Regions from separate parts of the Homo sapiens genome. Here region 1 is linked to region 2. The links come from fine-mapping of genetic effects on gene expression. A gene starts in region 2. The other region holds a variant in brackets. All regions are shown on one strand. Distances are from middle to middle. Region 1 overlaps KY (kyphoscoliosis peptidase). Region 2 holds the start of ANAPC13 (anaphase promoting complex subunit 13).

Region 1 (16,231 bases), 120 kb after region 2:
TAACCTGATTATGTTTTCTTTAATGTGAAATAGCTATTTGCCTGACATTCCATTCGCATCTCACCGTCGCATTCAACTGGCTGGGACATTGATTTTTTTCTAGGGCTTCCTTTGAACATGAAAGCATTTTTCCTGTTTCTCTCCATTTCCCACCTTGTGAGATACATGATAAGAATGAATCGATAATTACATTGTTGGATAAAAATGAATATAAATTTTATTGAAAAACAACACCAGCAACAACATGGAGAAAGCATACTCAACAGCCACCGGCCCACACAACTCAATGCACACATTATGAGAAGTAATCACCTCTTTCAATTGCCGACTACTTACTCCAAATGAAAAGAAATTATAGACCTAAGATAAACTGAGGCGGGCAATAGAGGCACACCATCTTCGAAAATTTTGCCAATAGCAAATGATGTAGTGATGCTGTTAACCCTCTGTTTGCTGCAGGCAGACCAGGATATCTCAGGAATTAATTGGTTTGGAGAGGAGAAAACCCACTCCTTCTAGTGAACATGGCATCTAAAACCTCAGACCACTGGGAAAACTTTTCTCCTTTTCAAGTCCTTTGAGAAGAGGATTTCACAAACTTTCTTGGCAACTTGTCCCTCCTGCTTAACAACAGGAAATAGTTCTTTATGTCTAGCCGAAATCCTTCATGCTTCAGTTAGTCTATTTATTTACTTTTAATCTTAGCAGGCAGTGAGGAGGCTGTCCTGGTAGGACAATGTAACATATGGGGAACTCACAATGATCATAATCAGATTGAAAATGGAGTCCAGCTGAGCTATGGCACTTCTGAAACAAGCTGGAAAGAAGTGTACTGAAGTTGTGGTTGTAGTGCCTCTGCCCACCACTCCTCCACCCTCGGTTCCCTTCTGCCCTGTGGCCTGGGGGCTGCCATCCTGAGAATTGCAAGCAGATACTTTCTGAGTTTGATCGGTTCCAATCCTTCAATGGTATAGTAATGAGTGTAGTCACAGCTGTTCCATCCAGTCCTATGTCAAGTGCTTCTGTTTCAAGAAGTTATTTCCAGGCAAAACAGTCCCATCACATCCCTTGTCTTTTCAACACACCAGGTTGTCCCCCAGGATGCCCTCACAGCTTGTGCGTGACAAAGATGTCCTCCGTGTACACATAAGGTAGCGCTGAGAAGCCACGAGAAAGCACCTAGTGATTTTAACATAAACATTTCCACAGCATTTTCAAGTTCTGCGAAAAAGCCCGGTGATAGATCAGCCTCGCGGTGTGCAGCGCCGGCAGCTCCGCACTTCGGACACCTGGGGGCGCCCGTGCCATTCCGCCGGCGACTGGGACTCGTCGCCCGGGAAACAAAGATGGGGATTTAAAGAAAAGCCTTCAAAATGCAACTCCGAATGTCTACCCTGAGCAGCATGCGTGTAAAAATTCATGAAGATTAGATTTCATTTCATGTATTTTTACTTCAGTGGAAAGAAATGCAGGTGATTTTCTGACTGCGCCTACAGCTGTCTTTACAAAGGGGGTGCCTAGTTAAACGAGAGGGAGGGGCTTGCTGATGCCCTGCGGTGCTTTGAGGGGCGGGGCCTCCCTCTCTGGTGCTGGGGACAGCTCCTATTTTGCTGGGTGGCATTCTCTGCAATGCTCCAGGATGTATTGATTAATTATATTGCATATCGAAAAGGTATGGGGGTCTCCAGCAGGACTAAGCGAGGCAGCCAGCGCGGGGTCCAGTGAGTGACATGCGTCATCGAAGGCACTTATTGTTTTGATGAAACAAACACATTTCTTTAAGCCCATAAAATCAGAAGTGTGCAAGACGGCTGTTTTCAGGGTGTAAAACTCCCTTTGTTTCCCTGTGGTGGTGCATAGCTGTTATGCCTCCGGGGCCTTTGTGCATTTTTCAGGTGTGAGTGACACGAGGCTGGCTGGGTGGCCTCGGTGGCAGAGACTGCGGAGGGCGCAGGACCTGCCCAGGACAGTTCAGCCCCCCAGGGGAGACACCCCTTTTGCTCGAGGCCGCCGGCCTGTTGGATGATGGGCACCCTTGTGAGCTGGTTCTGGGCTAGGCCACCGTGCTGGGTGGCAGTGGGGACTTTTAGGGGAGGGATCCCGGGGGATAATGAACAGAAGTGTCTGGAGCCTGGATCTTCAGTCAGGCCTGGGCAGGGAAGGCTGCTGCTGCCTGGCAGTTTCCTCACCCTGTACTCTGGATGGCAGGGGCCGGGCCCCCTTGGTTCACCTCTGTAGCCCAAGCATCTGGTACTTCTGTGAGCATTTGTTGGATACAGGGATGTGAGGGTGAGTGCCACGGAGGAAGCTATGAGGGTCCCAGCTGGCCCTGGCTGTGGTTGAGCCTGGAGGCCTGTGGAGGGGCTGTGGGGAGAGGTGCCAGGCAGTGCTGGCTCTCAGGGGTTGGGGGGCACTGAGACAGCCAGGGGCCACGGAGCTGGAGAAGCCGGGAGTTCAGCAGGGAGCATGTCTGTGTGCCAGGATGGTTCTGCAGTGGCCATGTGGGGCCTCTCTCGCCTTTCCCTCTTATCTGCCCTCGCTGAAGTCAGCCTTTCCTCCGTTGCCATGGCAACGGCAGCCTGAGGCGCTGCTGAGGGCCAGCTGGGCAGCTGAGGCCTCTCAGTCTGTGCCTGAGCAAGCAAGGAGCCCTGAGCTGTCCCCATGCAAGGTGAGACTGGAGGGGGCTGTCTTCTCAGAGAAGGGAGGAAAGGAGACGGGATAGGATGTTTTCTCCGAGACAGGCACAAAAGCTGCTCTCGTGCAGCTGGAATTCTTCCCAGCCCTGGCTTTGCTGGTAGAGACACTGGGGGCAGGCAGAGCCCTGTTAAAGTGTGAGTCTCCTCGGCATTGCCGCACTGCACTACTCACCTGATCTGCGCCCAGGTCCTTATTCAGGGCTATCCACAAGACTCCCCAAGGGCCTGGCCAGCCTCTGGAGGCTCTCTGTGGAGGTGGGGCAGGGGCCTGAGGCCCAGGCTCTGTGAGGGCCTGGAGGGCACTCCAGGCCTTAGACTGAACTACCTGCCCTGTGTACTCCTCTCAGAGCAGAGCTGGAGGTCTTACACCCTCAGACCAAGGCTGCAGCTCTGCCGACAGTGTCCCTCCCACCTGCACAGCCACAGCGGGCATGGGCTGCTCTTTGCTTTGCAGTCTCCTCACAACTTTCTGGTTGTCACATTCCTGACTATACTTAGGGATGTTGGAGACGATCAGCTTCCAGCCAGTTGTGGGTCAGCTGGCTTCCTCACCACACCCTTTTTCTTGGGCTCTTGAAGAACAAGAAGTAGCTAATGAAGAGGCAGCAGGATGCAGAAGATGATCAGGTCTGGGAGGAGAAGATAGTCCAAGATTCCCTGGGGGCTCGGAGCTGTCGAGAGGCACGGTGATATTGCTTGAAAGGGGCTCTGTGATTCAAGGACAACCCAGCCTTGCAAATCATGTCCCCTTGGGCATGGAAGAGAATTCTCTAAGCATCATGTGAAAAGCTGTCAACCTGGGCAATATCCCTGCTTTCCCTCATCAACCCTACAGCAACAACAACAGCAGCAGCACTAATACGAGAAGGGGCATCTGGATGCAGGTGTACAGTTTACAATACCTTAGATTTACATAGCACCTTTTCCTTCTAAAGAGCCACTGCCTCTGCCCCCTCAGTCACAGCCACACCTGAGTGAAGCCTTCAGAACACAAAGATCACAGCTCCTGTGGCAGAGGTGGGACACTGAGGCAGAGGCCTAGAAGGGATTTCATGCAGACTCAGTGGTGTCCAGGGCTCCCTGCACTTCCTTCGAGCCCTCCCTGGGGAGGTCTGGCCTTGGCCCTTTGGGAGGGTAAGACCGGGGCACAGCCCTCACTGGGCATTCACTTTGTATTTCAGGATGTAGGAGTAGAAATTGTGGTTGGCATTCTCCAGCACCATGACATAGACTTCCTGGCAGCCAGCTGTGCTGCAGCTTCCCTCCCAGTAGCCCTCGTGGTTCAGGGTCAGGGGCCATGTGTCCTGCCCCTTCACCAGGACTTTGGCAATACCATGCAGCTTCAATTTGAATGGGACATTCCGGTTGGCAGGAAGCACACCTGACAGAGGTTCCAGCAGCTCATTGTCCTGTCCCCAGTTGCCAAAGCTCTCAGGGAACATGGGCCAGTTCACCTTGGTGTTGGCACAGCATACAAGGTAATTAAAGACGAAGATGTAGTTTCCTGGTTCCTGCCTCTTCTTGACAAAGATCTTGAGGGCAAACTTGCCTGCATGGGGCAGCTGGACTTTCAGCTCGGTCTGCTTCTCCCGGTGCAGCTGGAAGATGTAGCGCCGCTGTGTCTCCTCAGTGATGGGGCCATCATCCCCGTGGAGGGAAGCCAGGACATTAATGCCCTCCTCCACGCTGAAGCTGATGGAGCAGCGCCCGTCGCTGGTGTGGATGATAGGGTCAGGGTGGGAGGGCTTCATGATGCCCATCTGCTCCGAGAACCAGCTGGGGCCCACGGGCTGGTGAAGCTCAGCAGGCAGCTGGACACCCATGTCCACATAATTGCACTTGAGCGTGTACTCCAGCACTGAGCTGTAGATGTCGGAGTTGCCCTTGGCAAAGATCTGCAGCTTGTGAGTGCCCATGGTTGGAGGGTACACCTCCAACTTCATCCCATTCTTCCTTAGGCTCAGCAGCCCATGCTCTTGCTTGCCATTGAGCATGAACATGAACAGCGTCGGGGCGCAGCTCTCAATGGTGACCGTGGCCTTCCCATTCACTGAGGAGAGAAAGTCAGGGTCAGCAGAGATGGGTCCAGCACGTGCTGATGTGCTGGTAAATGTTTAACAACTGTCTCCCTGGGAGAAAAACGTCCTGACTTATAGAGCTTGTCTATTTCCACGGTGTTAATACTTTCACCACAGTCCATTTCAAGCAACCAATATGACTTCACTGAGCATGGCATCAGCCAGCGGCAGCACACCGCTGGAAGGGTTCCCTGCTCCCTTCAGGTGGTTTTCTTTGAGAGAAATGAAAGCTAAGGGGCCTCTAGAAAAATTTATCCCAAGCTGTATGTGTGCATCCTGCCCAATTGATTCACATTAGATGAAGGTTGCCTGTGTCCAGAGAGGGTCATGGGTCAGGAGGGGCACCATCTCCCCCAAGTCTCAGGTCTAGCTTGCACCTTGCTCCCTGTAGCATCTGTCTAAGTGTCAATGCTGTCATGTCAACGCATTGTCCTTAAAACTAGTGAGAATGGCTTCACTCCCTGAGACTGTGCATAGGAGGTTGGGGTGGGGCAGTTCCCTGATCCCCACCTCCCCCACCCCATGCTTCTCACATAGGTGTATCTTAGCCATGTTTCAGGAATGGGTCCTGAAGAGTCAGTGTGTGCACAGGAGGGTCTTTTGCAACCCCCACACTGCCACCCCCCATCTCTCCCCTTGCTCTGAAGTTTCATCTTCGTCTGTCCTGGTCATTGATTTTGAGGGACAGGTGGTCAGTTCTCCAGTCTTTGTAGCCCATGAGGACCCACCTGCCTGGTCCCTCCTGGCTTCCAGGGCCACAGGGAGGGACCGTGGCTTCTCTTAGAGCCTGGTCTTAATTCTCTCAGAAGCTGGTCATCTGCTCCCAGCCCCAGCAACCTCCCCAGCCCCGTTCACAGTTGAGTGCAAAGGAAGGAGAGAGGCTGTCTGATCCATGTCCCTAGGAACTTTCCCCTAGCTTGGACTCTTGGTAGGGGAGGCAGAACACTGTGCCTGGGCTCTAGGACAAAGGCCTTAATAGACTTCTCATTGAATCTGCATTCCATGCCAACTCCCACCTCAGGAATGGGAGAAGACCACATGGGCCAGCATGATGGGGAGGCTGCTTAGACAGCCCCTCTACCTTCTTCGTGGCTGTCCCAGCTCAAAAGCTGTCCCAACCCTGTCACATACTGCCCACTCCGCACCTGCCCTACACTCCCACACATCCCCCCACTGCCTCCATTTCCCCTCTGCCGGTCAGCTCTCTGGCACTGCAGTGACTTCCCTCTGCCCCCACCCTCCAGTGACTTCCTAATAACGAGGCCTCTCAGACCTTGGAGGACCTAGGCTGCTGGCCTCCACGCCTTCCTCTGAGTACTCTCCCCTCTTTGCGACCCCCACTCTTTGAGGACTGGCCCTCATCCCACTCTCTGAGCACTGCTTAACTCCAATGCCATTGCTTCCCCTTCTGTTACACTGAAATTGTGTGACTCTTGGTGCTTTCATGCTATTTTATTTGTCTACATGCTTTCTCTACTGCCTTCAGCCACTGCATGCCACATCTGTCCCATGGTAACCTCCAAAGGAAAGTGACCAAGATCAATAGAGTTGCTATCCCCTCTTGGTGAAAACCCTCCTCTCCCCTCACTTCTGAACCAGCTCAGTGGGCAGAAGCTACCTCAGCTCCTCACTGCTCACGGCCCCTGGTCCTGTTCCATCTCACAACTGGCTGTGAGTCTTTTCTGCACAGTGAAGCCCAGATCCCCCTGAGATTCACCTTTGATTGTGGAGCACCACCCAGCACCCCACACAGCAGCCCCAGGGCTCCTTTGAAAACGTCCACCTGGCTACTCCTGGGCTCACGGCAGAGCCCTCAAGCTGGAGACCCGTGGAGAAGCCTGTCTCTTCCTGCCTCGCCAGTATCAAGCACTCTCTCAGATCCTCCAAGGCCACAACCCTTCATGCCTCAGGTTCCTCCTACCCTCTCCTCCCTCCCCACCACTTCCCCCAAACCTGGATAAGGCTTCATGGTAATGTCCCCGTGGCAAAGCAGCCCACCCGGACCCCTCAGCTGAGGCTGAGTTCCCTGGCAGCTTCTCTCCTAGCCCTGGCTGTCCTTCAGGGAACGTTCCACTGCTGTAATTCATCATGTGATCATTTTTGTGTAGTGTCCGAACTCCTTGCTGGCCTGTGGGCTCTGTGGTGAAGGGGCTAGCCTGTTTCATTTCCTGCCACGTCTTAGTGCCTGGTTGTGGTGCCTCACCCAGAGGGTTCTTGCCAAAGGTGTGTTGAATGACTGGGAAGACTTGAAATAAAGGACTAGCCACCCCTGCAGACCTCTATGGGAGTCCACGGCTCTTCCAGTCCCCTCTTCCTCCTCCTCCTCCCCTCTCCCCTCCACGGCACTCTCCTAGAGCCTGGCAGCTTTCCAGCCCCTTATCTAGGTGCCCTCTTCCTTCCCTTCCTTTCTGCTCATCTCAGTTTCCCTATTTTGTTTCCTTCCCCTCCCCTCTCTTAACAGAACTAGCTACCACAAAGAAATACTCTGTACATAAGTATCAGATATATGGAATCATATTTAGGTTTAGATTTCTATAAATTAAGGAATCTGGTGTTTATATTTTTATGTCTCTTAAAAAGGCAAACTCCACTCAATGACATCAGTTTGGTGTTGCTTTGACCTGGTCAGTTCTTTCCGATATTTCCACGGCCTATGATACATTGAACAAGCCCTGCATCTGTTGTAAGCACAGGAAATGGATTCTCAAATTGAGCAACTTCACGCTGTTATTTTAGCTGCAGGAGCTGCCAGGTATTTGGAGTTGGAAGAGTTTGCAAGAGCTCAGCAACTTGGCAAAGGAAG[T/C]CATTGTGTGGTGGAAGGGACAAGTCAGTTGGAACTAACTTGGGGACACCTGTGCTCCCCGCTGCCCCATTGCCCTGCAATGTGGGTTGGAGCTCCCCAGGGGCTCTGGGCCCACCCACAGGCACCCTGTGCTAATAGTCAGTGTGAGCTCAGACCTCCTGTCCTGGGCGGATGGAGGCCCCAGTGGCAGAGACGGTGCCACCAGGCAGTCCTTTGCTGAGGTGTGGGAGGCTGGACTGACCCGACTTACAGGGCTGTGCAGCGTGCCCAGGCTGTGTGCCCAGCACTGGATCAGGTGCCAAGGCCTTGGAGAGGCATAAGAGACAATCTTCCAGAGAAGGCCCTGCTTTTTTGTGACCAGTTCTGGCCCTCCAGGGCAGCCCCCGTATGCCTCAGAGTGTGCAAACATACTCAGCTGCCATGGCTCCGTGGTGAAGGTTGGGAGAGCACATGTCAGCCCAGGCCAGCCATGGGAGATGGCTAAGCTGGGTATCCTATACTGCCCCAGGGGAGTGGGCTGGAAACGGCTGGGTCCCGCCTCCAGAAGGGAGGGGTACTGAGCCAGCCAGGCAGAGGTGCTGGAGCTTGGCCCTCATCCAGGGGTGCCTGAGTTTGGAGGCTGGGGGCTTACTGTGTCCCCGCCTCTCCTCTGCTGCCTAGAACATGTCCATCTCTGTCTAGCTACTAGGCCTGTTCTCCTCTCCCAAGACCCAGCTCAGTGGCCACCTCCCTAAGGAAGTCTGCCCCAACTCTCTGTCTTGGGTGGGACTGCCCCCACCTGTCCTGGGAGACCCATGTTGCTCCCCATCCTTGCTGGTTGGACCACCAACACCCAGATTCCAGCTCTGCTGAGGCCATGTATTCTCTCCAGCAGGAGTTGGGGAAGAGAACACAGCAGGCCAGTAGCTTCTGTTGGGGACCTGAGCCCAGAGGCTATGTGTAGCCAGGGTGACGTAGTCCTTTTCCCTGCTATGTGAACTGAGAGAGACTCACCCAGCTAGGAAGTGCCCAGCCCTGGCTTCTGTGACATGCCAGGCTGTGTGTTCAGCCTTCAAGTTCTAGGAAACCTGCAGCCTTCAGACACATCCCTTTCTGGGTTTATGCTAGTGTGAGTGAGCTTTTGTCCCTGCTGATGTGGCCTATGGCCCTTCCCTGCCCTGATGGCCTGGGCTGCCTCAGCAGCCTCCACTCATCCACATGCACACACAAGCTTTGTGCTAAGCTCACAAGCCATGCGTCTGGAAGGGCATGCCTTGAAAGCGCAGTCTCAGGCGGGCTCCTGGAGGACAGTGCGAAATGCTCCATTCCTGCTGCTAGCACACTGGCACCTGCTCCGGGCTCACCTGTTCTGATCATGGAAGTCTCTGGGTGGGCACTCAGCATCCCTTTGTTGTAGAATTCACTCTTGTGATACATGTTGTTCTCAAACTGCCTCAGAGATTGAGGAGGTTTTAGCAGCTGCCAGTTCTTGTTGTCTGGGAAGTGGTCCTCGATGAACAGTGCAGGGTGGGTGAGGAAGTAGAACTCATTGTAGCTGGAGCAGAGACAAGCTGGTTAGCAGCCAGCTCCATGCAGGGGAGGCAGGGGCCCAATACACCCACCGGAGTGGTCCTATGGACACCCTGGATGGGAAGAGGCACCATCTCCGACCCTAACATGGGCACTGGAGACTCCTCCTCAGTGGATGCTTCCAGAAATTGTAGTCAAGGCAGGGTCTGAGGTCCCTTCTAAGGGAAGGCCACAGCCTGCAACTGTGGTCTGCACTCAGTGCCCTAGGCTGTCGAGGGGAAAACTGACTGCCTCATGCTCAAAGACAATCAGAAGTTCAAAGGGGGGAAAGGCATAGCCTGTGGACCACGCAGTGGGGTCGTGGGAAGGCAGGGAGACAGAGTGCTTGAATTCACTGCCTCCATCTACCCCAACCTGTTTCTGTGCTGTGCAGCTGTGCTGGCGGGGACCTTTTGTGGCTCTCCAGGGCCGACTGGAGTGCTGCCTCTCTGGATGTCAGTAATGGGGATCAAGAGAAGAACAGAGAGGCCCTTCCTGAGATGGGGGTGGCTTTGCTCTGCCTAAGAGGAGCAGTGTTGAGAATAACAGAGGTAAAGAGGGTATCTGTGAGTACGCGAGCCCTGCGTGTAGGATGTGTGTGCACATGGCTTGTATTTGTCCCATGTGTGGGAGTGTCAAGATTTAAGGTGCAAAAATCGAGAGAGCACACTCATGTTTCTGAATAAAAAGGAATCTGAGCTGCTGATAACATCATGATCCATGAAGAATATTGTATGTAGCCTCAGGTTAAGGCCAGGATTGGCCAGAGCCCCAGAGGACAGAAATGCTCCAGTCCTCTGCACCCCGGCTGCCCTGCCCCACTGTGCCTCACAGTGACCCTGCACCGCCAATAGCACCCCTTCCCCAAAAACCACAGCCCTTTCCTCAGAAATGTGATACGGTCTCACTCAGACCTGAGAGGAGAAGGAGCCTGGTGTCTGGGCAAAGCAGTAAGAGATCATTCTGGCATTTGTGCCTGGTAATGTGGTCAATGGCCAAAGTCTGGAAGGGAACCTGCCAACAACTAAAGAAGGCTATTAGCCCACCTTTCCTCATGTGTGGTCTGGGGGCAAATGCTGCAGGCTTTCAGTGCTTTGGTGGAGGGAGTTATAGGGAGTCAGAGTGGGGAGTTTGTCAGTGGAGGGTGAGGTGACAAAAGGGTCTGGGCCCTCACAATTGGCCTGGAGCCAGCCCACTTCAGAGCCGAGGAGGAGTGGGCATGGGGCCTCCTGGCTCTCCTTCCCCTCCCGCTTGGTCTTCTCCACCTGCTGCTTCATGCTGCCTGGCACATCCTCCACTTCCACCTGCCAGACGCCCAGCAGAACTGAGACAAGTACTTACAGGAAGGTGAATTTGGAGGTGATGGTGTCCACCAGGCCGCTGCCCCAGGTGCTGTCCACCAGGTGCCATCTTCCCTCCAGGTACACAGCATTCCAGGCATGGTCAAACTCCCCCGAGAAGCTCTGCCCTGTCTGGTAGCCGAAACCCTTGGAGTAGCCAGGCACGGTCATACACTGCACTCCGGCGAGCCTGGGGGCAGGACAGGGGGTCTGAGAGGGGGATCCCGCTGTGGCTTGCCTCCAAGTCTGTCCATGGTCTCAGGTTTCAGGCATGTTTGCTGCCCATCAGTCCTCCCTGTCTATCCTTTTCCTTGCTTCTTGTACTCACATATAAACAGCCTTGATGGCTTTTATCTCGGGGCACTGGGGACAGGGAGATACAGTGCTGGCTGGTCCTGTTGGTACAGACTGGCTGCAGTCTCCGCTGTCTGCTCCTCCCCTGAGACCAACACCATTCAGATCACTTCTGAAATGTTCATCCCTAGAGCCTGCTTGACACGCTCCTCAAGCAGCTCTTCAGGAGGAAAAAATGGGGGCAAGCGTGAGGCTGGCTTCAAGAAAATAGGAGCAGGGGAAATGACAATGTTCCTGCAACAAAACCTACATGTAAGGGGCGAGCACAGCTGCTGGGAGAACCAGGGCGCTTCTGGACATGCGACTGAAGAGATGGGTCTCGTGACATGGGTGAGGTGTTGTGGGGTTGCTGGTTGTGAGGGTACAGAAGCCAAGCCCTACCCCCCTGCTATTCCTCCCAAGGATGCCTGCAGGGGAACCCCGGGGCAGGCGGTGGATGTCTCCAGCCCTGGCCCAGGGAGGACTGGCCAGCTGCCAGTTTGCTCAGGTCTGACTGGTGGGTCTGTCCTTTGTGAACATGGTGCAAGAGCCATCATGGTGCATTAAGGTCATTTGCTGACTGCCTGCCCTGGCCACAATTCTGGAGTCTCCTGTGGCTGTCCTGAGGGGAATGGAAATGCCGACCAGTCAACCTGAGCTTTGGGGTCCTTTTGACATTGTGCTCCTTCACTGCTCATAGTAGAGCTGGCACTGCTTTCTGGGAACCTGGATGGGAAGATGGGCATGGGTCACCTCTGGGGAAGATATAAAATGAGACATTTGGAGCTAAAACCCTGAGGCCCAGGCCTGGGCTGTGGGCACCAGTCCAAGGCCAAAGCAAGACCCCTGGGTGTCCTTTCATGGCCAGCTGGTCTTGCTCCTCAGCAGCCCTGCTCCCCTGAGGACAGCCAAGGGGATGGACTGTGCAGACAATTTCACTGCTAGTCTGACCTAGGGACATCCCATGCTAGCCCTCCTAGGGCCTTTGTGTAAATTAGAAAAGGTTCCCCTTCCTCAAGACATTTTCCTTGCACTCATGGAAAATTGGTGTAATAGATACACAACCTGTGAAACCGAGGATGTGCTTGATGCCCCTTTGATGGGGCTCCTTTGAGTACCACACAAGCTGCTCAGTCCCCAACTCAGTGGTGACCCTGTGCTGTACTCAGCTGAGCTGAGTCTGCAGTCCAGGGTGTTGGTGGGGTCTGTTTCAGTGAGATGGGCCCATGGGGCTGGGCCCTTCCACAGACCAGGGCTGCAGCCTCAGTTGCTCTAAACAAGAGGGCCACGGAGCCTCCCAGGGGAATGGGGTGAAATGGCCATGCATCTACTATAGGAATTGGGGGAATCTTCCTTGTAAAAATGAACATGTAATTTAAAATTAGCAAAATATTGGATTAAATATTACTAATACATATCACTTGCTGAGAGAGTCATTGGGATCAAATGTGATGTCCTGAGGGTTAACAGATTCTACTTTCCCAGCCATCAGTGTTTCTTCACATGCATGCAATGATGAGGTGTTACCATGTCTGCCTTAACCTCTGCTCACCTGTGGAAAGTCCGGGCCACTAGTGCTGAGGTTCCTTAGGGGCTTGGAAGTTTTCTAGCCCCCGCCCTTTTGCCTGTTGCTTCACAAAAGGAGGTTCAGGCCTCCTAAGCCCTCTAAGGAATCCCATAAGAACATACCAGCTTGGCTCTGTGGGATGGCTTCTGGGAGCACTTGAGGGCATGGGGACAGACTGCAAGAGAAACTAGATCCCAGTGTTGTGATTTTCTGCTGGCAAAGGCCATAAGCCACTCCAGGGCAGAAGGAGGCAGTAGCTGAGGAGACCGTGGAAGGAAGGGGAGAAGGGGCAGCCTGCATACCTGGAGTGCTCTCTCCTCATTTCTCTGCAGTGCAGAGAGCAGAAGGTGGTGGGGAGTGCTGAGGGGATGCAAGGCTGAGGGGGTTGTTCTCAGGATGAGGAAGTCTGGATGTGTTTATAGTCTGAGAGGAAACAGCTAGCAGAGAAGGACCAGAGGAAAGCAAGGCCAGAGGAGTGGGTAGAGGTGTAGGGGTGGGATAGACATTCTATAGGAGGTGGGGCCCCATCTACTCAGAGACTGGGTGAGGAGAAGAAATGTTGTGAAAAATATTTAGTGAGCTAAGCAGTGCCCCTGACACGATGTGAACTGACAACAGCATGTCAATCTCTCCAGTCAGCACAATGTCACGCCGATGCTGTGTGTGTGTGTGTGTGTGTGTGTGTGTGTGTGTGTGTGTGTGTTGCCTGCATGCACAGAGAAGGAGGGGCAGGGAGTGAGAGGGGGAGAGATGGCACAAAAGGCACCTGATCTTTTGGCAATGGGATTATAGGTGATTTTAATGTTTTTCTTGAAACTTCTCTGTATTTTCTAAATTTTTAATAATGATTATGTGTTACTTTGAGAATTGGAAAAAAAGCCATAAATACTACTTAAAATTATATTCTTCAGGAAATTACTTTCCATTGCTGCCTAGAATGTCTGTGCATATCACTTTCTAGGATGATGTGGAGGGATAAGGGGAGTCCTGGGAACAATGGGGCTTGGAGAATGGCTCGTTTTGCATTAAGGTGAACTGATTTAGCGGCGCTGTGGACCTCTGGACATGCTGCCCACTGATGCTTGTCCTCTGCTCAGAGCCACCTGGAGTCAAGGAAGGAAGGAGAGGAATTTAGCATTTGTGCAGCCTCCAGGCGGTGGGGTAAATCAGAATGGGTATGGAATGTCCTCCTGGGAGAAGCCATGTCCTAGGCCGTGTGCCCAGGGGGACATCCTGCCCTCAAGGGAGTGAAGTGGAGGCAAGATTGGAAAAACCAAGTCAGGGAGCAGCAGCGAGAGCCTGCCCCAGCCCTGGAAAGGAGAGCAGGAGGAAGAAGCAAGGGGCAGGGATGTCCACCTGTACTGCTCTGAGTGGGGGTGATGGCCCCTGAGCCAGGAAATAAGGTCACCTCCCAGGTCTGGTGGTCACCTCTAGAGTGACCTTGCCAGGCTTATCATGGGCAGAGAGAAATGTTGGCATTAAATGATCTCCAGGGGTTGATTCTTCTCTGACAGGCTGAGGAGAAGCTGGGAAGGCTGTGGGGAATGCCTGGGGCAGAAAAAAGATGAAAATATAAACTCAGTTATAAGCTTATGCCATGCTTGACTCTGATATGAGGATATTTTATTACCTGGCAGCAATGTGCCAGATGAATTGGACAAAGAAGGTCATAATGTAAAGCATTATTGTTAATATGCCATAATTCTCATGCAAAATCCTCTGTATGTATAAGACGATGATTGTGGAACCCACAGGAGTTTTGTCTCCAGCCACTCTTGCTAGCCAGGATGAACCACAACTCTTTCATGTCATCAAAAGATCACTGGCCGCACACACTGTGTATAAAGCACTGTAGCAGGGAATGCTATAACATGACATGGCACCATACAACGCAACACAATGTAACAACATAAAAAAATATCATATCCCCAAAATAAGGCTCAGTGGCTGCCCTAGATGTGCTGATAGTTGGAAGGAGGGTGGATATGGGAACTGTCACTGGAACTGTCTCCAGAACTTTGCTTATAAAATCCCAGTCTATAAGCAAAGACCTGGAGAGCCCAAAGGTGGAGGAATTAACTTTGCAGGCAGGAGCTGAGAGAGCACGGAAGGAGGGGCCGAGGACTAGAAACATTTCCACCTCCTGAAGAGCTCCGACCAGCCATCCCAGAGCCTAAAATATCACCCAAGGAGATTTATTTAATGACCTCAGACTGCAGAATCTTCGCTTCTACTTTACAGAATTGACAACCTCAATTTTGCCTCCATAGCTCATGGCTGATATATATCCCAAGCCACAATGAAAACATGGATGTAAGATGCCCTGAACAAGCTGCCAAGGAGCACCCTGGAGGATTTGGAGAAAGCTGCAGCCCCCACTCTCCAGCAATATCAGGGCTCAGGGACCCAATCAGAGAAGCCCCAAGGGCTGCAAAGGACCACATGGCCACCAAATGTGGCCTGATGGGAAGAGACTGAACAGAGGGGCAGCCAAGCAGAAGGCAATGTCATTACCTGGGTTACCCTTGATGAACCCTGAAGCTGCTGAGTCTTCTATGAATGCATTATCCTTATTATTTAAAAAGATCTGTGTGTTCCAGTTTGGTGCACTGTATCCTAGTGTATTAATTTGGTATTATTTTATACTGAGATGGTCCAGGCCCTGCCATAGGAACTGTATGATGCTCCTACAGTCAGTACCAAGGCCAGGCCCCAACAGCTGTGTGGCTGAAATATCTGGGTGGACAGGTGCACCCTACACCAATGGGCTCTGACCGCAGTAGACTTTCCCAAATCTGATCACCTCTCCTAGGATGTGTGAGCCAAGTGAGGGAAAAAGGGAGGGAGTGTGCCTGTAGGAGAGACTATGAAGTATGCTTTTCTTTTGGTATTTTGTTGAAAATACTGTGGTTTCTATACTGCAGCAGGACAAACAAACCATGACTTATCTTTCACAATTTATGTACTTGATTTCTTATAATCTGACAGTGTGTTTATATTTCTCCCATGTGCTCTCTTTTCCCTTTTCTTACACACTACCCTTACAGCTACGTCAATAACTAGTAATCTTGATAATAATTCTCTCTCCAGGGCCCCATGCAGAACCTCATGAGACGTGACTTCAGAGGCCTCCTCTCTGAAGGTGAGGGAGGCGTCAGCTGTTCAGAGAGAGAGGCTGCCTTGCCTGGGGACACACAGCTAGCCAGTGGCCGGAGCAGCAGTGGATGCAGTTGTCCTGATGCATAGTTCAAGAAGCTTTTTTTTTTTTTTTTTTTTTCACGTGTGAAAACATCTATTGGGAAAATGGAAAAATCATTTGACCTCATATTCCTCATAGCTGACATGGTAAGTTAATTTTTTTTCTTTTTTCTTTTTATTTTATTTTATTTTTGTTATTATTATACTTTAAGTTTTAGGATACATGTGCACAATGTTGCACCAGCTCTTTTGTAAATCAAGATTTTGTTTTGATCTATACACTTGTAGGTGGTATAGAGAGTGAAATGGAAAGGTGGTTTGCACCAGTGACATAACTCATCTTTGTGAGTGCCATCCTTTGGTGTAGCTATAAGGGTGGGGGAGCTAAGATGTCCCTTTCAGAGGCCTTATACACCAGCATCAGATTTGGTGATAATTTAAGGTTATCCAATGAATCTGCATCTCCCAGAAGGCTTAGATGGCCACTGCCTATCTTTTGGGGCCTTTGGAACCAAGTGATGTTTTAGGATTATAGGGGACATACTGCTAACCAGAAGCAGCCATCTGACTGCACACACTCCTGCCCCTGCTCTCAGTGACAGCTGGAGGATGAGTGGAAAGCCAGCTGACATCTGATTGGTGACAACCAACTCCCTCAGTGTCAGGGC
Region 2 (16,231 bases):
CTTTCTAATCTGTAAATTTATCCAAAGTTTGAAAATACCATGAAGAATCTTAGGAATGCCAGTAACCAGGGAATGGGATATTTGCATATCACAACATCTACAGGCTAAATACACTCCGAATGCTTCTCAATGTGGGGAAGTATGAGAAGTTAATAATTCTCCTAGTGTCTGGCTTCCTTTTTCTTTGCCTTTCCCTCTCATACGTTCAATCACCTGTGTTACAGGACACACATAAGTAGTTGGAAGGTGTTAAACTTTGACAGCAAAGCAAAATCAGAGGTAGAGGCAAATGTTTAACCAATCATGTTCAAATATAAGCTACTCAATGAAGAGTTTTAGGTTTAAAGAGCGAAATATTCACCATTACTGAGAAATCTCAGTTTCTCATTCAATTTCGCATTGCACTTTGCTACCACAAACTAAATGGGTGTACATTTTTGAGTGCTGATTTATTACTCAAAGGTTTGAATTTGGAGACTGAAACAAACCATGCTTTATCTGTGTACTTTGAGAAAATCCATCCACAAGAAAGGAGCCAAGCGTCAGTTTCCAATGGGGGGAACATTCTCATGGAGGTACTGTAAGGCTAAGTCTGTCCACTTCATTTCTTGTTCTTTGACAGATTCTGTGGTGCCACCATTGTCTTGTTCAGGTTCAGGAAGCTCATTCTGAAAAGGTACAATAGAAATTCAGAACAGTAATATATTCTGCATCTTCTTGGAACTCAAGAACACTTAGAATTAAAGCTTGTGAGTTCCTAGGAACAGGCAACATAATTGATATGTGTATTCTAAAAAAGCTAAAATCATACACGTGAGGAAACTATCAGAAGTATCATTCAAACATGGCCCGGGCCTTCTTCAGTAGGGAATGATGGGCATTTTGACTCTGACATTTGTGAAGGAGGCACTGTGGCAGAAAGGTTAAGGGCAGAGGCTTTTGGAAGCCAACTAGGATCCAAGACCACAACTCTCCCATTTGCTGGGTTACTTGGGCAAGGTATGCAAACCCTTGGGGCCTTTGTTTCTTCCTTGGCAAATGGGAGAACAAAAGAGCCATCACCTCACAGGACTACTGTAAGGATTAGGTGAGGTAATTCAGATCAAGTGCTGAGCACTCTGTGGGGTATCCAGTGCTCAAGGAATATTTGCTATTATTATTAGCGGCTAGGAACACTGAGATGAGTGAATCCTAAATCTTCTTTAGCGGGAGCGTGCTTTAAAAGAATACTAGTTTGCTGGCATATTCCTTAGACACAAGAAATGTATCCAAAAAATTATCTTGGACCCAACATGTCTTTTTTTTTTGAGATGGAGTTTTGCTTTTGTTGCCCAGGTTAGAGAGCAATGGCGTGATCTCGGCTCACCACAACCTCTGCCTCCCGGGTTCAAGCGATTCTCCCGCCTCAGCCTCCCGAGTAGCTGGGATTACAGGCATGCACCACCATGCCCGGCTAATTTTGTATTTTTTTATTTTTTTTTAGTAGAGATGGGGTTTCTCTATGTTGGTCAGGCTGGTCTCGAACTCCCAACCTCAGGTGATCCACCCGCCTCAGCCTCCCAAAGTGCTGGGATTACAGGCGCGAGCCACCGCGCCTGGCCCAACATGTCTATATTATAATAAAAATGGAGGTAGGGCAGGAAACACTGAAAATGTAATTAATAGATAAGACCTCCCTCTAGTGGTGGAGCAGAGCAACAAAAAACACAACAAATGACCAATTCACACCCTACCAGCAATTTTCTTAAAATGGTAAGTCATGGGCCACACTTACTGTAGGATCTGGGATCATTTACTTGTATTTTAAGTTTAAATGTATTACTACTGAAACTCTGCTTTGTACCAGAGTTCACAGATACCAATATATTTCTTTTCAATTATCTGTGTTTTGTTTTATGGTTAGCAAACTGTTATGCGATATCCAGACTTAAAATTTTCCACTGGATTCTAATTTGTAGTATGTGAATATGTTTTCCCCTCTAAAATTATGCTCAATATATATTAAATGATATTTACTTATCTATATTTGAATCACATACATCTTGTTCTACAAGACAGATTCAAACATACTTGAACAGATTGAGAAGAGCTATCATTTATTGTAACGCAATAATATATTATCTTAAACTTAAAAAGAAAGTTCAGTCCTAATAATTACTTATAGATGACAAAGAATAAATAGGTCCTTGGTTAATGAATTCTTTAATTCAGAAGCAGACAACGTTGCTTAATTTCATCCTATCTGTGGTATGCTTTCTAAAATAATGTGTCTTTCATTTGGTATCTACTGTCCCTTGCAATACATGCCAACACATAAAATGGCATATATGCCTGGAAAACAAAAACAAAAGTATCATAAACCCAGCCACCCATTATGGTGTACTGTAAAATGCCCTTAGTTCTTTGCAGCTACTCTTATCAAAAGGTGAAACTGATTTCCCCAATCTTGGATTTGGACTGGCCCTGTGAGTTGTTTTGGCCAACAGAATGAAGCTGTCATGCCAGTGGGCCAGTTCTTGGCCTAAGCTCCAAGAAGCTCTGCCGTTTCCTCTCAGGTTGCTCTTGGAACCCTGAGATTGAGAAGTCTGGGCTAGCCTGCTGGATACCAGAGACCATGGCATAGTCACCCCATCACCCAGCAGACAGCTTGTTAACTGCCAGACATGTGAGACAGTCCTAGATTACCCAGCCTCCAGAGTCTGTTGGCTGACTGCACAACACAGGCAAGCCTGGCAGGGATCAGCTGAGCTGGTGCAGACTAGAAGTCCCTCCCAGCTGAGCTACAAAATCATGAAATAAACAGTTGCTCTTTTAAGTCACTAAGCTTTGGGGTGACTTGTTATGCAGCAAAACCTAACTGGCATACACATTGCCTTAGAATCGCAAGACAAGCGAAAGGTGTGGATTAGCAGCAGGGCCAAGCCAACTTCGCCTGGAAGTCAGCAGGGAAACCTCCTTCCACCCCTGCCACCCAAATGTTCTCCAATCTGAGCCATAAACTTCTCCAGAAATGGACGTCTCCTTTATTTTCTTGACTTTGTTTAGGCCCTCCTCCCTTGCCTAGACCACAACAGCTTGCCAATTGGTCTCACTTGCCCCTATCTCCATGTCACACCATCTCTAACAATGCTGGCTAAACTGATTTTCCAAAAGCCAAATCTGAGCATAGCAGTCTTGCTTTTAAGACCATTCATTCCTGGATCTCCTGAGGATGAGGTCTAAGTGTGATATCAAATACCACTCTCAATCTGATCCAAGCCCAACTTTTCAGCCTACTTATGTGACAAATGTATTCTTCATCCACAGTGAATGACTCACCATGTCCCAAAGCCTTTCAAAACTCTGGGCCTTTACACATCTGTCCCCTCTGCTGCAATACCCTTGTCTACCTCCACTAAACTTCTGGTCCTTCCTTATGACCCAGCTTAAACATGACATTCTCTCAGAAGCCTTTCTGATGCCCACCAGGCAATCAGCCACTTCGTATATGATGTGGCTGTTTATGCCCCCACCTAGAATATTTATTATCACAATTACTTATCTATAAGTGTTGCCTTTCTAGACCCCTCAGGAGGAGGAACTGTATCTTATGTTCACATAGTCTTATGGCACACAGTAGGCTTCAAAAAATGCTTGTCAAATGAATGAATGAACAGAAGTTCACAAGACAGGATTTGGAACTTCACAGACCTAGGTATATGTTATATGAAGCCCTACTTACCTGCTACCAGACTTTGGGCAAGTTGCCCTTTCTGATCCTATTCTTTTCCTATAAAATGGGAATAACAGCACCTCCCTCACAGGGTTGTTTAAGAATTAGAGATAATGTATATTTCCAACCTCAGTCCATGGCATAAAACTGGTATTCAATAAATGACATCTATAATTCTTATTATGCTCTCTCTTTTGACTATTTTCCTAAGCTTGAACTAAGCTATGACTTATTTGATATGTATATTATTCATTGAACATATTACTATCTCTTATTCGTAAATGAAAATACAGATGAACTATTTTATTTCTTTGCAAACAGCAACAGCAGATATTCTAACTATAAATTATATTTTATTCAATACTAACTACTCTTCTCAGGGCAGCTGGCATGCTTTAAAGAAAAACAGTCCTGTTTTCCCTTTTTTAGGCCTCTATGACATAAATAGGATTTTAAACAAACATTTATATAAGCAAAACTTTTGGATCACTTATTACATGAGGTTTAACAAACTCCCTGCAGCAGAGTTTTCCAAAGATGGGGAAGAAAAGAGTATTCCAGAAGGCCACTGGCCTAAACGCAAAAGAATACCCAGGTATCTTCTGAATATTTTCCAGGGAACCTAAGATAGGTGTATGCTCCAAGAATGTAAGTTTCTAAAAATGCTGAAAGACTGATGAGCCACAGGCAGGGAAGTAAGAAACAGAGCTCATATGCTGCTGCTTCTTGTTCTTCCCCATCTTGCGCATTAAACTCTCATTATTTGGTTTCTCTGGTTTTCGTGTGGTGGACAGAACATGGCTCAGAAAATCGGGGCTCTAGTCCTGGCATGACTCCTAACTGACCTGGCCATGTTAGCTCCCTGAACCACATTTTTCTTCAAATAAAACATACAACTGGATGCTCTCCAGAAGCTTCTAGAGTTAGAGAATTCCACAGCTTTGATTTCTTTGCCACACTAGTTTATCTTCCATTGATATCCCTCCTCCACTAGTTACTGCCAGATCAATACCTTTAACCCATCCTCAGCTCAAATCATAACCTACCAGTGGTATTGCGACATCCTCATAAGGCAGCTTGTCTTCTCGCCAAGCATCATCAATCAAATCCAAGATCCTTCCATCTCTCTGAACCTCACTGTCCATTTTCCTGCAGCTTTGATCTTGTCAAATCTGTAAGCCAAAGAGGTTATTTCTTAAACACGAAGACTGAAGAGATGGTATAATCCACTATTAGGATTCTCCAGGCTTTTTAGTCTGGGGCCACCTTTTGGGAAAAGGTTCATTTTCTCATATGGGCCGGGTGACTACTTTGATCACAGTTCCTCTCTCCAACCCCAACTGATACATATTTTATAGTGTATACTGGACAGGCATAGCCCAGCTGACAGACCAGTGTCATAGAGTGTGACAGGAGAGCAACACGTTAAACGAGGCCCTCAAATATTAATATGTTGCATCTCAATGTAGCTCTTCTCTTCTAACTTGAACATTCACCTTTTCCTGTTTGTGATGCCTTTGATGAGTCCCTGATTCATAATGGCCAGCTAAGTTTCCTTTCTAGCCCCTGGCTCAAACCTCAGCATTCTTAGGCACAGGAGTCACACGAACATACTGTAAAGGAAACGGCTTCCTTCCCTAAAATAGTACCCAGGCTGAGATCTGAATAAAGCACTTCTAGGTGAACACCAGTGGTAGAACCTCATACTGCTAAAGTTTCTCCAGTTTCTGCTTCCCTTTGGGGTAGCTCCTTCCTCGGAGGTTCCTTCCTCTAATTCTTAACGCTACACTCCCTTCAATTTCTGGCCCAAATGGTCACGATGCTTATTTAGCTCCTTGACCATGGCTGATTCCCCATTTTTCTCTGAAACTGCTATAATCTAATCCAAAAGGCTGGCTAGCTTGTAGGATACTTCTGGATTTCCCTGTTTCCAAGGTTGGGCCCTGACTCATCATAGGCATCATCCTATGGGTGCTCCCTGCTACCAAGTGACAATCCAAAAAGCCCGGAAGCCACTGGCATCAAAGGTACTCTCAGTTTCTGAGACTATGGAGACTCACACAATAAGCAATTTTGGGGTGGTGGAGCGGGGTGGAACCCACCATCTGGAGGTGCTTTTTTCAGAGCTCAGCCTGGGTGATATTTTAAGGAAGGAAGCCATTTCCTTTACAAGCTCAACTTCAGACATCGTCTTGCCTTGAGGATTTGTGTCAGGTCTGTAGTTGGTCCCTTCGCATAGTCCAGTTTAGTGTTATCTCAGTATGTTCATGAGCTCCTGTGCCTAAGAACGCTGAGGTTTGGGCCAAGGCAGGTGGAAGTTTTTGTAAAAATGGCTCACAGGGCCGGGCGCGGTGGCTCGCGCCTGTAATCCAGCACTTTGGGAGACCGAGGTGGGCGGATCACGAGGTCAGGAGATCAACACCATCCTGGCTAACAGGGTGAAACCTCGTCTCTACTAAAAATACAAAAAATTAGCCGAGCATGGTGGCAGGCGCCTGTAGTCCCAGCTACTCGGGAGGCTGAGGCAGGAGAATGGCGTGAACCTGGGAGGCGGAGCTTGCAGTGAGCCGAGATAGCGCCACGCGCCACTGCACTCCAGCCTGGGCGACAGAGCAAGATTCCGTCTCGGAAAAAAAAAAACAAAAAAAACCAAAAAGGCTCACAGCTGTCCCCCATAGGATAACTGCAAGATATCCCTAACACCTTGGCAAAAATTATACACAGATTGGTGTGGGAAAGGGTTTACACCCCCATGACAAGGATCTCGGCAAAAGTTAAGCAAAATGCGCCCTGCTACTTCTGTCACCGGTGAGCCAGGTGAGGGCTTAATTAATCCAGTACTCAATAATTAACCGAGTACTACCCAGTGGATAACTCAAAGCAAGACGAAGTTTTGGTTATACTTTTGAAGTCCCTGTCTTACAAGTGCTCCCCACTTTCCTGCTGCTACTCCTTTGTCCTTGCTGCTCTGTCTCCTGGGATACCCTTCTCACTTTCCTCAGCTGATCCAAACCTGACTTTCGGAGGCCCACGTAGATTTTCCACCTTTGTAAAGTTTTCTCAAATCACTCGAGCTTCAGTAGGCCTTCTATCCTTGAACTCTTGCTTCTTGTCCTAACTTAATCTACTAAACAAGCTAGGTCAGCTTTGTGGTCAATTGCTCAGGTATTATTGCCTCCAACTGTTACGTGTACATTTTGTACCCATGATTCCTTAGTAGATCTTTCCACATTTGGTCTCAATCTTTTTCACCTGTCCCTTCTCCAAACACCTCCAACCCTGTCACATTTTCCAGCCTTGACAGTTAAAACCCCCTTTTCCACATCACTAATGCCACTCTTCCTTTCAAGATAAACGCAGGCGTCAGCTCTTGAAGGTCAACATCCCATTTCCGGGATTAGGCGCGAAGGTGCCTTCCCTCATAAGGGGCTGGAAGGATGGGAAGCATCAAGATAATCAATGCCCAGGGCACACTGATTATCTTGTGTATTAAAGCCACCGTCCCAAGTACTCGTCACCCAGTACGACCACTGTTTCCTGAACAAACTTTTCTTACTCACGTGACAGTCCCGATGCCTGCAATGCTCTTTGTTTCTTCCTTTTTATTCCAGTGAACCCACAGTCAGTCTAAAAATCTTAGGTCCCAGGTCGCTTCCTATAGGAGGCCGCCTCCAAACCCCAGGCTGAGTGCGGTCCCGGTACCCACCCCTCCAGGGGTCTCACAGTTCCCTAAGCACAGAGCATGGCACCAACTGGGGAGTCTGTCAAACAGCCCAGATGAATGTCTTTCCAAACACGCGGTGCCTGCGTTTCCAGGGACAGGGACACGTCTTATCAATTTCTATATATTACAGCTTTGTAAACATAATATTTATAAAATCAAAGCGGGAAAGCCTTGTTCCTTGCTAGAAATGAGCCTCGCAGGCCACCACCATCCGCACCGTACGACAGGCCGTCCCTCAGCTGCGGCTTCCTGCCTCAGGCAGGATGTACCAAACGTGGAAGCGGAGACGGGGAGGTCTGGGGGTGCCACGCAAGTCCCTTTCCTCCCGACACGAGTGCAGTAAAGAAAAACGGTTATGAGCGTAAAGTGACAGCCTCGGCCGATGGGAATAGGGGGAAGTCCGACACTGAGCAACGAACGCATTCCCGCGCCTCCAAAACCTAGGCCGGGGGCGCTGGAAACCCTTACCGGCACCCGGCCACCGCGGCAGACGCTTGCTCCTGCCACGCCCCCCCCCCCTCCCCCGCATCACGTGTCTGCACTCGCTTTCCTCGGATTCCCGGATGTGGGTGAGTTCATTTGCTCGCGTGCAGGGGAAGTCTGGAGAAGGCATTGTTTCAATTATTAAAAGTGTGGGGGCAGTGGGCGGAACAAACGCGCCGACTACAGAGGCTGGACGTAAGCTTAGCGGTGGCGCGCGTGCGCAGCGCCGGCCCGAGGTAACGGCGGGAAGGCTCAGGGGCGTGCTTGCGGCAACCCTGTAACCGCCGGTGCGCAAGTTGGAGGGGCAAGGGGCTGCCGTGTCCTGGTCTGGAGGCGGCCCAGGCTGCCTTGGTGATTCTGGCTTCGCGGCCTCATGGCTTGCGGCCGGTTTGCGCAACGGCCTGCGAACCACCAGGCGCGTCCCCGCCGGCTTGGGTCCGCCCCGAAGCCCAGTCCCTCGGCCTGGCCCGCTATGCCCTGCACACTGGCGGAGTCTGGCGTGGCGCAGCCCGGCGTGGGGTTCGGCCCCGCCAGGTGGTCAGCCCTTCCTCGGAGTCCAGGTGGCTGGGGGCGCTTCGGAGAGTGGCCAGGTGGGCGAGCGAGCTGCGCCCAGTACTCACCTTCCCCGGCGGACCCACCTTCCTTTTCAGCGGAGAGACCCCAGTGCGGCCTCCCTGCCAGGGCTGCTGTCTAGCTAGCGCTGTTGGGACTACTTCATTCACGGCACAAGGGGACCCGCTCATTTAGTGTGGCATGTTAAGGTTGGCAGCTTTTAAAATAGTGAGTTGGTTTAAACGGTTATGTTAGTACAAGAGGTACGGAAATGTGGCATAAATCGTGGACTGAAATTGGAGAACCCTGAACTAACGGCTCCATGCACACAAATGAGGGATAGAAAGAAATAAGGACGGTTTCTTAGGAACACTTTAATCATGGAGATACTTGAAGACAGTACATTTAGGCTTATAATGTGGTTTTTCTTACGTCCCTTACGACATCAGGAGAGTAAAGATGAGTATGATGTCAGAGACAGGTCGTCTTTTACAGTTTCAGCACCGTACGCTGATATGCACAGAGTAGTTTTCCCTGAGCCTTATGTCTGGTTAAACTTATTAAAAGAATTTATTATTTTAATAAAGCAGTATTGTAGGGTAGATGCCCTGTATTTATACAGTTCCTCAAGTGCTTGCATTTATTTTTTAGATACGAGGAAATCATAAGGATCGTTGATTAGATTTCTGTTAGCTGTAGCTTAATGATAAAGTGTATATATTTTCTTATTTGGCATGCAGTACCATTTTTAGATTGATTTTTATTTTGAGTTTGCTTTTTGACTGTGGCATTATCAGTGATCAGGGTAGTAAAAAGCTCTGAAACTAAATTAGAGTAGAGATTTATAAACAGGCACACTGCCTTTTAAAATGTATGTAGATGCAAATCTAAAAGTTGTTTGTAAAAATTGTGTATGTTGATTGTACTGATGCCATTTCCTCTCGTTAAAATGGTGGAAGACCTTTGCTTAGTCCTTTCTGTTCTAATTTATGTTGTGCTGGCAGATGGTGACAGCATCAGTAGTCCACTCTGTCATTGCTTCCTGCTTTCAAAAAATGTCAACTTGACTTGAAATTCAGCTAAAGCCAACATTGACAGAAGGTTTCAGGAACTGAATCTCCGATCTTTATGTTATTTTAGTCCGCCTCCCCGCCCCCATCAGGAGCTAGGTTTTTCAGTTTTACAGAGCCACAGTACTGTCATTACACATACACAAATTAATAAAAATTCTCTAATGTCAATATCCAGTCAGATAACGATTTCTTCAACTGTCTCTTAAATGTCTTTTTACAATTAGCTTGTTTGAACCAAAATCCCACAGGGATCTGCCTATTGTGTTTGGGTGATGCACATTTGACATCTTTTAATCTATATTTGTTCCCTCATAGTTATAGCTATGGGATTAGCCCCTATTTTTCCTTACAGTTCTAAATTTAGCAGATTGCATCGCACAGTATCCTTTAACATGTATCTCTGTTGCCTTTGTGTCCTCTAAACCAGGGGCCCCCAAACCCGGGGCCGCAGAGCAGTACCAGTCCGTGGCCTGTTAGGAACCAGGCTACAGAGCAGGAGGTGAGTGACAGGCTAGTGAGCATTACCTACCACCTGAGCTCTGCCTCCTGTCAGATCAGCCGTGAGGTTAGATTCTCCTAGGGGCACGAACCCTATTGTAAACTGCGCATGCAAGGAATCTAGGTTGCACACTTATAAGAATCTGACTAATGCCTGATGATCTGAGGTGGAATAGTTTCATCCTGAAACCATGCCCCTAACCCTGTCCATGTGTATTATTCATATTACTGAAGAAGTGGTTGGCCGGGCGCGGTGACTCACGCCTGTAATCCCAGCACTTTGGGAGGCCGAGGTGGGCATGAGGTCAGGAGTTTGAGACCAGTGTGGCCAACATAGTGAAACCCCGTCTCTACTGAAAATGCAATAAAATTAGCCGAGTGTGGTGGTGTGCGCCTGTAATCCCAGCTACTCGGGAGGCTGAGGCAGGAGAATCACGTGAATCCGGGAGGCGGAGGTTGCAGTGAGCCGAGATCACACCATTGCTCTCCAGACCAGGCAAGAGTGCAAGACTCGGTCTCAAAAAACAAAAAAAAGTGGTTTGGCCATTCCTCCCCCAAAACATTTCATATGAATTTTAACAAAAAGATATTTACAAAATGTGTTATTTCCGCCCTGTCGGTGTTGAGAAATTGTCTTCCATGAAACAGGTCCCTGGTGCCAAAAAGGTTGGGGACCACTGCTCTAAACCAGTAGTTAGATGTAGAATTGCACTGTCCGGTATTGTAGCCACCAGCCAGCAGTGGCTAGTTAATTAAAGTGAAATAAAATTAAAAATTCAGTTCCTAGGCTGGGCGCGGTGGCTCACGCCTGTAATCCCAGCACTTTGGGAGGCTGAGGTGGGTGGATCACGAGGTCAGGAGTTCGAGACCAGCCTGACCAACATGGTGAAACCCCGTCTCTACTAAAAATGAAAAATTAGCCGGGCGTGGTGGCATGCGCCTGTAATCTCAGCTACTAAGGAAGCTGAGGCAGGAGAAGGAGAATCGCTTGAACCCGGGAGGTGGAGGTTGCAGTGAGCCGAGATCACGCCACTGCACTCCAGCCTGGGTGACGGAGCGAGACTGTCTCAAAAAAAAAAAAAAAAAAAAAATTCAGTTCCTAACTTGCATTAGCCACATTTCAAGTGCTCGGTAGCTACAGATTGCCTGGTGGCTGCTTTTTGAACAGTGCAGTTATAAAATATTTTCATAATTGCAGAAAGTTGTATTGAACAGCACTGCTCTAGAAGCCTGATGAGATTTCACCCTTATATTTGTTTTTGTTTTGTTTTTTGGTGGGATAGTTGGGGGGGTTGGACAGATAATTTCATAGGTAATGCAGTATACTTCCTATTTCATTAATTATCAGGGAAGCAGTGTCTGAGTTGTTTTCTTTTTTTATGATGTTAACATTAAACATTATATTGGGTTTAGGTGTAGTTAGCTCCATCCACCCATAGTGAAATTCCCCAAGACTCTTTCACTTAGTGGTGAAGTCCTTTTGTGGGGTTATATTGCCTGTATCCGTTATTGCATTAGAGGTTGCAACGTGGTGATTATCTAATTCTATTATTTCTTCAATATTTATCAACTGAGAGTCTTTTATGAAGAACTTTCCCTTTCCAGCTGTTTGACTACCCTGAAATACAATTTGTACAGGAAAGGCAAGAAAAATGCTTAATTCTTTGCCTCTATTTTCAGACCACAGTAATGAGTTGGTGGCCTAGCAGCCTCCAAAGGTAACCATGAGGGTTTTTGCCTTTTTGTAAACCTATAATCATGAACTTATAGACTTTATATTTAAACTGTTTCAACATATGGCAGTTGTGTTTTTAATACTCAAATTGTTTCATCTTTGGCCAGTGGGAGCTCCTTAAAGTTGGCTCCTATTCCATTTGATATGACCAATAGCTTTGGTAATTTCCTTGCTTTCTGGTAAATAATTTTCCTGGCTCATTTATAGATTTCTGGTCTTCAAGGAGCCGTGGTTCTTTTGAGTCTGAGATAGTATTTGGAGACCACAGTCTTACCTAGGTGGGAGAGGTGTTCTTGCTACTAGGTTAGTCGTTAGTTCTAGGATTTATGGTGGCCAGAGTTAGGAAATATTATATATTAAAAAAAACACAAATATGCAAAATTCGCATTGTTTCCAACATTTAACATTTAAATTTCCAAAATTTAAACTTAATTTTACAGTTTTTTCACACGTTGGATTTATGTTTGTATCTTTTTTGCTGAGTCTTGGTGCCTAGTGCCATTAATAGAATTAGTTTTTTTTCCTCATCCTATGTTATATATAATGGTTTCAAGTTAACAGGCTATTTTATTATCAATATGATTCCTGAATAGTGCTTAGGATTTCTTTGCAACTGTCTTTTATCCTTATTTTATATGTCTCTAGGAAAGTGTATAGTAAAATTATTGTATTTAAAGGCATATGAAGTAATTTATTGTATAGTTAGCCTATCAAGTTGATATCTAGTTGGTAGTTGATTTATTTTATTTTGTTTCCAATTTTTCAGTACTGCTTTTTTCCCCATTTTGATTTGTTTTATTATATGCAAAACCTTAGCATAATTCCCATAAAACAAGTACCCATAAAACAATTTAGCTTTCATCTCTGTTTCTTCCACTCTGCTTATTTTCCTTCCTTACTGATACTGTTTTTACTAGTTTTGAGTCTATCCTTCCATTAAAAAAACACATACCTAAAAGCAAATCTACATGGACAAACATACCTTTCTTTCTTAGGTAAAATGTGCTATTATGTATACTGTTTTCCATCTTGGGTTTTTCACCTAGTGATATATGTCCTGTAGATCCCCTCCTTAGGAGTATGTAGAGATTGTTATTCCTTTTTACAGTTTCGTAGTACTCCATTGGTGGATGAATATTTAATTCGTCCCCTCTTGATAGACACTTGTGTTATTTTCTGCTATTACAAATAGTCATGCAGTGAATATCCCTGTGGATATGTTGTTTTGCATTTTTGCCAATGAGCCTGTGGGATAGATTCTTAAAAGTAGCGTTGTTGGATAAAAGGGTAAATGCATATATCAGTTGTTAGGTATTACCAAAGTCTCCTCTATAGCAGTTGTGTTCATTTTGCATTCCTACCTATTATGTATATGAGTGCCTGTTGTCCCACAGCCTTGTCATCAGAGTGTATTATCAAACATTTAATTTTTGGTTAATCTGGTACAGAAGAAAGGGTAACTTACTGTAGTTTTAATTTGTATTTCTCTTATGAGCAAGGTTGAACATCTTTTCATATTTTTACTGTCATTTGTATTTTTCTGTGCATTGCTTGTTTATACCTCTCGCCCATGTTTCTATAGATTTTTTGCCTAATCTTTTATAAGCTCCTTATATATTTGGGTAATTAACCGTTTGTGGTAAAACTTTCAGGTACTGTTGTCATTTGTCAGTTAACTTTGCTTATGGCACTTTTTCATATAAAAGTTTGTTTTTATGTACTCCTATTTCTCAGACTTTCTCATTGTTCTTCCTGGATTTTGAACTATAGTTTGGACAATTTTTTAAAAACTTTAATATTTTGAAAAGTTTCTCTAATACCTTATTTACTGGTATCAGTTTAATTAGGAGCCTTTCTGGAAAATGCTTAGTAATACTGATTGTTCATCGGAACAGCCATAGTTTACTGGCCATGGTATATCTGACACAATCATAGAGCTTTGTAATGAAAACGACACCAAGGCAGGTACAGGGACAGAGAGCATTGTTATCCTCCTTTAGACTTGAAGGTTAGGCATATCCCTTCTCTTAGTATGTACACATTTATTCATAATTCTGTCTGGAGTTTTTATTTTCTTCCTGTGTCCCATTTTGTGAATAATTTGGTCTTGGGCATATACTATGATATTTTTCCTGATCTGTAAAATGATAAAGTTAAATTAGAGGCCTGAAGTGCTTTCTAGCTCATAAAGTCTATGTTAATGAATTTCAAAGATTTGCCTATTATAAGACATTCTATTTGTATTCTTTTTTTTTTTTTTTTTTTTTGAGACGGAGTTTTGCTCTGTCGCCCAGGCTGGAGTGCAGTGGCGCGATCTTGACTCACTGCAAGCTCCGCCTCCCGGGTTCACGCCATTCTCCTGCCTCAGCCTCCCGTGTAGCTGGGACTACAGGCGCGCGCCACCATGCCCGGCTAATTTTTGTATTTTTAGTAGAGACGGGGTTTCACCGTGTTAGCCAGGATGGTCTAATTTTATGTAATTATATGGCACATGCAAAGAAGAAATCAAAGTGACATAGTGCATAGAGTTGAATGATGGTCAGGTTGGTTAGGAAAAGAATCAGTGATATAACTATGAGCAACTCAGATGACAAACATCCACAGAAAATCAGCCCTTACTATTTGCCTGATCCTGAGAATTGATGGTGTTTGGCACCAGGCAGATGGTGAAGGTATTACAGAAACACTTTGCACATTAGTAAGTTTACTTTATTTCTCACATAGGATATTACTGGTCCACTTCCCTCCTTTTTTTTTTTTTTTTTAAACAGGAATCTCTATCTTAGACCATTTTGATTTCTAAAATAGCAATATTTCTTATGTGACTATTTCATTATTGTGCTGCTGCCACCTGGTGGCCACAGTAGTGATGTCATACTTCAGTTTAATTTCTTTTTTTATTGCAAAGACACTATTAAGCCAAAAGATAGGCTGATATATTTTAAGATATAGAATACTGTAAAATATATAAAGGTTGCACATCGATTGTGACTCAATTGATTGCCACAATGTCTAGGTTGAATCCAGGACTATAATTTTTAGTTTATCATAGTCAAGTTATTTAACTCTCTAAGCCTGTTTTCTCAAAGTAATAGTATCTGTCTTTTATGAGTATAGTGAAGATTGATTTAGACAATGTGTACAAGGCAGCTGTTGAACATTCAGTAACTTAACTTCTAAGTATATTATTAAATAGTCATAGAAAATATATTAATGTATATTACTAAATATATTAATGTTTAAGAATAACATGACCTAAATAAGTATAATTTTACTAATGATAATTTTGAATAACTGTGATAGCACTGTCAATAAGAATAGCACTTTCCTACATGTTAGTTAAGTATCCGTGTATGGTTGTCAGGAGCATGCTACTTACAGTGGACATTTAATTGGCTGTTAGAACCCATGAAAAAGCTGGAAGAAACCTTAGAGAATATTGTTCATGCCCCTCATTTTGCAGATGTTAAAACAAGTCCGAGAATATAAAGCTAGTTAGTTGCAGAGTAGGACTGTATCCTGGGTCTCCATCTAGTGTGGTGTGGACCGTGTACTGCCTCCCAGTTCTCCTAGAGTGGACCAAAACATGGAATCTTGGTTGCATTGTAGTTGGACTGTATTGTGATTTGAAAGTGGAGTAAAACATGGGAACCTTTTTCTTTAGGTTTTTATTTTTGCAATTTTGGTGTAATATGTAGGATAAACCAACTAGAAAAAAAATCCTCCCTGTCACGTTTGTGCACAAATAATTTAATACTCAGTTTGTTAGTATCTTTAAAAATAGATGCAAATAAGGTGCAGTGGTTCTATTTTCCAGTCTTCTCATTCTCCTCTGTGTCTCTGGAACACCCTGGGCATGTCTCTCACTATATTTATCACACTGGGAAAGCCTTTTTGGCTCATTTTTTTCTGTCCCATACTAGACTATTAATACCTTGAAAGGGGCCATATCTTTCATCACTATATATCTAGTTGTTAGTACAACATTGAATTACGTGTTGAGTAAAATAATCTACTTCTTACAGCAGTATAATTTTTAGATGAGGATTAGCCCAGGGGCAGAACCTCTACACCACAGTCTGGTTATTGTCTTAAGGGTTTAAGGAAAAAGCATTTTGGAATGAAAAGTGGTTTGACATTGAACATTTTGAAGATTTATTATAAAAGGCGAGAAGCATACACATATTAATCAACACTACTGAGTTTAAGGGTCCTCTTTCCTTTCTCACTGTCACCTTTCTTCATGGTGTATCTTACCCTTTATTTTATATTTATTTATTTATTTATTTATTTATTTATTTATTTATTTGAGATGGAATCTCTGTCTGCCACCCAGGCTGTAGTGCAATGGTGTGATCTCGGATCACTGCAACCTCCGCCTCCCGACTTCAAGCGATTTTCCTACCTCAGCCTCCCCATGGCTGGAACTACAGGTGCATGCCACCATGCCCAGC

What was found. PIP is the estimated chance that this variant, and not a neighbour inherited with it, causes the effect.
Region 1: its variant is fine-mapped to the expression of ANAPC13 in whole blood (TOPMed, PIP above 0.99).

The regions. Positions count from the first base shown.
Region 1 is chr3:134,599,729-134,615,959 of GRCh38, forward strand. It overlaps KY (kyphoscoliosis peptidase), which reads right to left. Exons shown (of 11, transcript NM_178554.6): 9 at 10,467-10,655; 10 at 8,921-9,111; 11 at 195-4,746. The coding sequence ends at 3,851. It also overlaps a transcript of CEP63 not described here. Among named protein-coding and RNA genes, the nearest start is that of KY, 43 kb to the right of the region's middle. RefSeq lists a silencer at 4,339-4,633. The variant T/C (reference allele first, on the strand shown) is at 7,578.
Region 2 is chr3:134,478,048-134,494,278 of GRCh38, forward strand. ANAPC13 (anaphase promoting complex subunit 13) reads right to left here and starts at 7,938. Exons shown (of 3, transcript NM_015391.4): 1 at 7,905-7,938; 2 at 4,759-4,884; 3 at 1-668. The coding sequence starts at 4,857. The coding sequence ends at 543. CEP63 (centrosomal protein 63) reads left to right here and starts at 8,010. Exons shown (of 15, transcript NM_001353108.3): 1 at 8,010-8,155. RefSeq lists enhancers at 7,593-7,712, 7,743-7,842, 7,923-8,032, 8,124-8,942.